Regions from separate parts of the Homo sapiens genome. Here all the other regions are linked to region 3. Evidence: fine-mapped expression QTL. A gene starts in region 3. Each other region holds a variant in brackets. All regions are shown on one strand. Distances are from middle to middle.

Region 1 (2,849 bases), 140 kb before region 3:
AACTGGCTTTGTGTGGTATTAATTGCTACTTAAAACAAAGTTCCCCTGGTTAAATGCACTTGAGAACCACAGTAAATGAAGATAACAGATTTCTTGATGAAGGACTTCCCAGGGCCTCGACTGTGAAATTGTGCACCGTGAAACTCCAGGAGGCAGCATTCAGAATGCAACACGTCCCAAACATTTTTTGAAGTGTTTAGGGATATAGGAGCTGTTAGTCTCAGCAAATCATGTGTCATTTCACAACTAGCAGATAAGTTTCCCCAGGACAGGAATATTGTCCTTCTTGTCTAGTGTTGTCTCTGGAGACCTAGGGCGATGCTTGCCACATGATCACCCGCTAAATATGTGTGCAAGGAAGGCAGAGAGGGAAGGGAGAAGGGAGGTAGCACAGATGTGGTGTTTCTTGCCTCTGCTCTTCCATTTGTACCATTGCTTCTGTGAACCATAAATGTATTGGCTTTGTCTACCTGGTGAGCCCCAATTATCCTTCAAAACTCAGCTTACAAGTCATCATTTCTCTGAAAACTTCTCTGACCTCCTCAAGCAAAGTTGGGTAATTCATTCACCATTATAGATACTGTAAGTACTGTTGCTTCTGTCCACATCCCCTGCAGTGCTGGGGGCTGCATTGTCGATTTCATCTTTCCTACCATGCTAAGTGTAAAGTCCACCATACTGTAGGTGCTTAATGAGTATGCACTAGAAAGAGGCCAGTAGAGAGGGAGGGAGGGAAAAAGGAAAGAGATGGACGGGGAGGAAAGAGAGAATGAGGGAGGGAGGGAGGAAGGAAGAGGGAGAGAGGGAGGCAGAAATTAATAAAGCATACTCAGAGATCATTTTCATAATAGCAAATGGTTGGTAATGATAGGATTGGAGAGGTTTCCTGGGGACAGGTAGTGGAGAGACATGGATATAAGAAAATGAGTTTACCCTATATTCTGTAAGAAGCCACAAATTAAGCAAGGAGGTAGCATTAGATCAGCTTTCCTCTGCAAATTGTTTTCAGTCGACAGGTAAAATGCTACTATACTACGTATTCCAAGGTAACCCGAATACAATTTAAGCTATTTACTTAATAGAGGAGATCATATGTAGCAAAAAGAAAAAACATTGCACAAGGCCTTCAACTGCCTTAAACTAACATAAAGATCTCTGGAGATGGAGTGGAAATGCTGCACTCAACTGGGGCCGGGTAACCAGAAATGGTCACTCATGAGACTGAACCATG[T/C]GTTTACATGGTAAATATTGAATCAAATCTGCCCTATGTTGCTAAACAGAGGGATGAGTCCCGAGAAGCATAATCTACAATCAGAGTGCAATAAAATGTTTTCCTTTTTTTTTTAAAGCCAATAACAGTACAAATAAGTGTTAAATCAAGATTCATTTATCGCTAGCCCTTATGAATGGAACATAAAGAGCTTGTCAAATTTACGAGTTCCATTCTCTACCCTTCGCATTTTCAAATAGATGCTGACAGTTTACTCACGACTGTCATACCTGCCGAAGTTGAAGGAATGATTTGTATTTTTCTGAAAGTGGCCCGGCATCATAGGTATCTTAAATGTTCTACACTAAATAAGAGAAAATCAGAATGTAACAAGTGTGTCTGTTTTATACACTTGTAGTCTCAACTAATTCAAAGGTGGCTGAGAGCACTAAGCAAACTAAATCTTATTTGTATTGAAATTTTAATAAGAGGTGAAGATTCAATTCTGCCCAAATCTAAACAAGCCAAAAGAATTACAGAAGTAGGTCAATTATCCAGAAGCTTCCAAAAATATAAGAAACTTCATGGGGCGAGGGGGAGGGATGTGCGCCTGCACTCGCGTGCATGCGTTAGGGTGGGTTGGGGAGGCAGGAGAGGTCAGAATGGATTTGAAGAGATTTCGGCATGTGGATATTCCAGAGCATCTGTTGCTGTCAATATATTGGGGTAGGGGTGACATTATTTAGGCATATCCAGGAATGGATGAGTTTAAGTAACAGATGTGTTACTTACCAATATAACCTGTATAGTCCATGTAAACTGTGGCTGAAAATATCTGAGGACACCCACATCCCATCAACAAAATTTTGAATATAACTAGAACTTTTAAAAAGCTGATTGGATTGTTCTATGTTTATAAAAGATCTTAATGGCAGAAAAAGGATGCTCATATTGGGGTCAAAAAAGAAGGCTCAGTCAGAAAGCAAGAATCAGCCGGTATCAGTGCAACCACCCAGGAGTGAAGGCACTGCACAGCCAAAATGGACACCCCACCCTACTCAACAGGTCCACCCCTGCGGTAGGCTATAAAATGGCCCCCTACATGATATCCACATTCGAATCCCTGGAACCTGTGACTGTTACCTTACATGGCAAAATTGACTTTGCAGATGTGATTAAATTAAGGATCTTCAGATGGGGGATTTTCCTGTATTATCCAGGTGGGTCCTAAATTATGCCATCATATGTATCCTTATAAGAAAGAGGCAGGAGATTTGACATACACAGAGAAAGCAATGTGAAGATGGGAGAAGAGATTGGAGTGATGCAGCCACAACCCAAGGAATGTTGAGTAGCCATTAGAAGCTGGAAGAGACAAGAAACAAGTTCTCCCCTAGAGCCTCCAAAGGGAGTGTAGCAACATCTTGATTTGGGCCCAGTGATACTGATTTAGGACTTCTGAACTCCAGATCTGTGAGAGAATACATTTTACTTGTTTTAAGCCACTCAATTTGTGGGAATTTGTTGCAGTGGTTACTGGGGACTAATACAACCCCCCTACCTCAGGATGAGTTCCTCAGGCAGTCAGAGCTTCAGGACACTAACCATTACACTCAACAAATGACCTCTCACCCCTCCC
Region 2 (2,849 bases), 110 kb before region 3:
GGAGTATGAAGGCCTGACCATTTAGGCTTGACACAGGGCAACTTTGATGGGCCGTTTTAGTAGCCCACCTCTCTCATGGGAGCTGGGCCCTGAGCTGGGCCCGCTTCACAGGCCGACTTCTCTCTCCCCTTTCCTCTCCTCCCTTCCACAGGTGTTGGCCTCAAGGGCACACTTCATAAACATCCTTCCCACTAAACTCTGTCTCAGAGCCTGCTTCTTGGAGAACTCAACCTGTAGTAGGAGAATATGGAAACAAATCAATAGTTGGAATTTAGGGTTTGAAATGGTGTGTAGCTCTGGCTGGTATTACTAAACTTGTCCAAACCTATTACCACAAGACCTATGCAGCACCAGAAATGCAGCACAACTTTAAAAAATTACTCAGGTTAGTACTACTTGGTAAATGGGACTGGGAAATTTGATGCTGGGAAAATTGATTATTTAGAAAAAAAAAACCATAGATAGAGGCCTCACTTTCTATATCTACCAATTAATTTTCAGATACATTTGACGGTTAGAGGCATCTTTTTAAAATATAAGAAAAGGAAAAGAAAATAGAGGTGGGTATTTAGCCAATTTTTGCCTTTTATGAAATTTTAAAAGTAATTTTCACACAGGTGTTAAAATTTTAATTTGTTTTTGAAACTTAGAAAGTTATAAAAGTACAAAGAAAAACATAAACTCCTCTAGCCCCATCACCCAGAATTAACAAGTTGATTATTAACAAAATTAAGGTTTTATAATATTTGCTTGTGCTTATCTGTTAACATTTGCACGCATGATATTTTCTCAGTTTGAGTGCTTGGATGCAAGAGAGCAGAAAAAGGATTTACTGGTTATTGAGTCAGTAGCAGATAGAAGGAAAGTCTGGAGATGGTTTCATAAGATGAGCAAGTGCAAAGACAGCTGGACAACAGGAAGCACAGCCAGGTTACAGCACAGGAACAGTTTTAGGTGTCACCATCGCTCCTACCTTCCCTGCACATTAGACACCCCCGCTTCTGGCCTCTCAATGTGCTGTTTCAACCACGAGTAATTTTTCAACTCTTCCTGAATTTTAGCATCACTCTCTCAAGATTCAAAGTCCATTCAGGTGGCCTAGGTTGCACTCTAGCTGCAAAGGCCGGGGAGAGGGCGTATCTGAGCCCCTTACAGAAGCAAGACACTGTCTCCCAAAAATACTCACAAAATAGGAGAGTGCTAGTTATGAAGCTATTTTATCGCTGCTTCAAGCGCAGGCTCCTGTATATCCCTTTGTGATGTCAGGGCTGAGACTCTCTTTTTCTGTAAACTTCATTTCTCCTTCATCACTTGCTCCCTATATTGACTCTGCCAATAGAGGACCCTAAAAGTCTGGGGAAGAAAGAAAGGTCAATGTTCCATCCTATTTACTTCCTATGCCTGTCAGCATTACTTTAGTAATGCTTTTTCACCCCAGCAGTGGTGATTCATGCCTGT[G/A]GTAGCAGTAAATTCCTGATTGCAATATTTCCAACACTCCCAGAACCAGCTCATCATGCCCACTCTGAGCTCAAAGACTCCAGTACCAGGCATTCAGCCCTCATCCTCCTCAGAGGTCCAAGTTTATGCCCCATGGGGCTCCTCCTCCAAGCCTCTACGTTTTGAAGATTCCAACCTTTTCCCTTGGTTCATCCATCCTTAGGGGTGGTAGTCCTTAGTGGCTCCTTTTTGCTTTCAGTTGTCCAATACCTAATTGACAATTCTTTAAATTAAATTCTCTCTGTTAAAATTTCTGGTGTGCTTTCTTTCTCTGGTTGAAAAAAGGGGTTCCCCTAAAAGAGGAAGAGTGTTTAGAGGCTGAGTACTCCCCACCAAAAATAACCACAAATGTCTGCCACAGGTATTATCCTGTTTCTTCACTATATATATTGAGTATTTAAGTCCTATCCATGTTGATATAGACAGAAATGTTTATCATTTTTAGCTATTATATACTATTTCATGGCGTGAACATGATTTATTGAGGTACATTTATGTTGTTTCTAATTTTTCACTATTAAAACCAATGCTGTAATTAAGACAAAAGAGGAAACCGATGTTTATCTCAAACGACTGCAGAAAAATGCATTTGACAAAATTCAACACCAACTTATGATAAAATCTCTCAGCAATCTAGGAATAGAAGGGAACTTCCTTAACCTGATAAGGAATATCTAAGAAAAACCTGTGGTTTTCATCATACTTAATGGGGAAAGACTGAATGCTTCCCCCCAAGGTCCAGACCAAAGCAAGAATATCTACTTGCCGCTTGTATTCAACATCGTACTAAGGGTCTTGGCCAGTGAAATAAAGCAAGAAAAATGAATAAAAGAACAGATCGACAAGGAAAAAGTAAAACTATATTTATTTGCAGATGACATGGTGACATGTATAGAAAATCCTAAGGAATCTATAGAAAAACCTATTAGAGCTGATAAATGAATTTAGTAAGGTCATAGGATACAAGGTCTATATACAAAATTTAATTGTATTTCTATATGCTAGCAATAAACAATTAGCAATTTAAATTAAAAAACATTACCATTTACAATAGCAACAAAAATATGGAATTCTTAAGTATAAATTTAACAAACTTGCAATTTAGATGCACACTGAAAACTGTAAAACATTTATGCCTGAAATTAAAGATGAACTAAATAAATGGGAAAATATACCGTACTCGTGGATTGGAAGACTCAATCTTGTTAAGACGCAATTCTCTCCACATTAATCTATACATTCAATGCAATCACAATCAAAATCCCAGAAAGCTTTTTTTTTAGAAACTGACAAACCAATTCTAAAATTTATATGGAAATACAAAGGACTTATGATGAACAAAATTAGACTTA
Region 3 (2,500 bases):
TAAATCTAATCTCTTATTTAAAGTCAACAGAGGAGCAGGAACCCCGCGCTCCTGCCTACAAGATATTTTTAAATAATTCTCCAACCTCTACCGAGAGGGACAGCCTTAAGGAACCTCCCTGTTTTCCCCTCTTGAAGATTTAGGTAGCAGACGTGGGGCGGGGGGCAGCGGTTCCAGGGTCGCAGCTGAAGGCCGAGAGCTCTGCGCACTTGGGGAGGAGAATTTGGGCTGGGGGCGGTGCGGGGGAAGCGACTAATACAAGAGGAATTAATCCCAAATAGCCACAATTTAACAAAAGAGCGTCAACTTGAAAAGACTTGAATCAAACCGGGAGCCGAGCCCCCAGGAGGCTCCTAGGCACGAAGCCTCCCTTGCCTCCGTCGGGGGAGATGGGGGGCAGGTGATTTCCCAGCATGTGACCCTGAAGAGGGAGGGTCTTGGGCCATTACGGGATGCGCCCAGAGACTAGGCGCGTCCGCACGCACGCACCCCCGGAGGAGACAAGCCGAAAAGACACTCCGCACCCCTCCCCGGGTCCTTGGCTCGGGACTGCGCCCCCGGTACTTTGCCCACCTCCCTCCCCAGCTGGGCGGGGACCACTGTTCTCCCTCATTCCCAAGGAGCCTCCGACCTCCTTGGACCCTTGGCGGTGAAAGGCTCCCAGCCTTCGCCCCTCCTGCCTTTCCCATTTCTTTCCCCCGCCTCCCGCCGACGCCCCCAGATCTGTTGGGCTCGCCCTTCCTGAAAGTAGGCGAGGCCCAGAAGCTGAGGTTGGGGCGCAGAAGGAGGGGGGTGGGAAGAGGGAGGAGCGGAGCGCAGCGGCCGGGGGCGTGTCTTCCACTAGCCCAGCCCCTGGGTGCGCGCGGCGGTGGTGGCGGCGGCCGAGCCTCGCTTTGAGAGACAGGTATCGCTTAGGCGCCATGTTGTGAGCGGAAGTGGGGGAGCGCGCGGCGGTCGCTGTTCTGCTGGGAGCGGGCGCGGGAACCGGCGGGGGGGGCGGAGCCGTAGTCCCGGCGGCGGAAGGAGGAGAGGAAGAAAGGGGCGAGACCCGGTGCCCAGCGGAGGCGCGAGGCTCTCGCTCAGCGCGCGGGCGTCTCTGGCCAGGCGCGCGGCTTTCGGGCGGTCGGCGTCGGCGTCGAGCCCTCTCTGGGGCCGCCGCCGCTGCTGCTGCTGCTGCCGCTGCCGCTGCCGCTGCCGCCGCCGCCGCCGCCGCCGCCGCTGCCGTGGGGCTCGGGCGGCGACGGAGCGGGGCCGGCCGTGGGGCGGGCGGGGAGGGAGGAGGCGGTGAAGGCGGCGGGCCGGGGGGGAAGATGCCGCTGGCGCAGCTGGCGGACCCGTGGCAGAAGATGGCTGTGGAGAGCCCGTCCGACAGCGCTGAGGTGAGTGCAGCAGGGCGGCCGGGGCCGGCGCATCTCCTCCTCGCGCCCCCGCCGGCTCGCTTCGCTCCCCGGAGCTGGCCACTCGGCCCGTTCTGATCCCGCTCGCGTCTTTCCCCCGGGCTCAGGGTTTTGGTTTGGGTTGTTGGGGTGGGTCTATTGGCCGGTCTGTCTGTTCCTTCCATCCTCACCCTCACCTCCTTCCCTCGCTCGGGGGGCTGCCAGTGTGGTGGCGCGTGGGGTTTGGAGTGGGCGCTGGGGCTTTGCAAGAAGCCAATTTTAATCAACTTTGCGTGGGGGAAGCGGGAGGCGGAGCGGGGGCCGGCGGGGAGTTGGGAAGTTTGGCCCAGCCGGGTCGGGGGCTTTCCCGGACCTTGGCGACTTTGGGAGATGAGGGAGGGGTAGGGATCGGGTTCACCGGGGAGCAGGGACTCTCGAGTCCAGCCGAGGGAGGGGCTGCTGCGGGGAGACCGGCGCGCGGGGCACGGGCGGCGGCGACCTGTGGGGGTTTCGGGTAGGGGGTGCAGGGTTTTGCCTCCCCCTCGTCTGCCGCAGCGGTTTCTGCTGCTGCAAAGAAGAAAGCGGAAGCCTAAGGTCCCCTACCCCCTCCGTTTCTGAGGTCGCAGAGCTAGACCCCCGTCCCTGTGAGTTTAACTTGAGTTTCCTGTCCATGGAGGTGAGAGGGTGATATTCAAGGAGATCAGCGGCCGCCGTAAAAGGCTTTCTGGTTTTCCTCGCCCGGGATCTGGTGACCGTCCCTGAGTCACCCATCCTAGTGCCCAAAACCCAAACAATATACCCAAACAGGGCAAAACAGAATTTCCCCGGGCGCATCACTACACCGAGCTTTCCTGAACCGCCCCTATCCCAGAACAACTCGGGGTCTGCGAAAATAATCCAGACAAGACCCGTTCCAAGGTATCACCGCTCCTCTCCGGAGTGGAAAATCAATTCCTGATGGTGGCGCGTCTGTGATTCTTCCTTCTTGACTTTTTGCTGCCTTCTCTCCCCGCAGCGGACTTTAGGGGATTACAGGATGATAGGCTGCGTGTGTGTAATAGTTACTGAGTGAGTGACCCCATTTCTGGAAAGCATGACTGAAACGCGGGGGTGGAACGGGGCAG

Which allele goes with the higher level. Positions count from the first base shown, and alleles are read on the strand shown. Sizes are in standard deviations (SD) of each study's normalised expression. Not every link is listed here.
As copies of A replace G in region 2, the expression in fibroblasts of the gene that starts at base 1,034 in region 3 goes down (small effect, 0.22 SD a copy in GTEx).

The links. PIP is the estimated chance that this variant, and not a neighbour inherited with it, causes the effect. A credible set is the group of variants that fine-mapping cannot tell apart.
Region 1: its variant is the best candidate, but not a certain one, in a credible set for the expression of RPS6KA3 in whole blood (TOPMed, PIP 0.82).
Region 2: its variant is the best candidate, but not a certain one, in a credible set for the expression of RPS6KA3 in fibroblasts (GTEx, PIP 0.57).

Annotation. Positions count from the first base shown.
Region 1 is chrX:20,408,536-20,411,384 of GRCh38, reverse strand. No RefSeq gene overlaps it. Among named protein-coding and RNA genes, the nearest start is that of RPS6KA3, 140 kb to the right of the region's middle. The variant T/C (reference allele first, on the strand shown) is at 1,232.
Region 2 is chrX:20,371,360-20,374,208 of GRCh38, reverse strand. No RefSeq gene overlaps it. Among named protein-coding and RNA genes, the nearest start is that of RPS6KA3, 110 kb to the right of the region's middle. The variant G/A (reference allele first, on the strand shown) is at 1,459.
Region 3 is chrX:20,265,443-20,267,942 of GRCh38, reverse strand. RPS6KA3 (ribosomal protein S6 kinase A3) reads left to right here and starts at 1,034. Exons shown (of 22, transcript NM_004586.3): 1 at 1,034-1,379. The coding sequence starts at 1,311. RefSeq lists silencers at 258-552, 974-1,193, 1,314-1,573.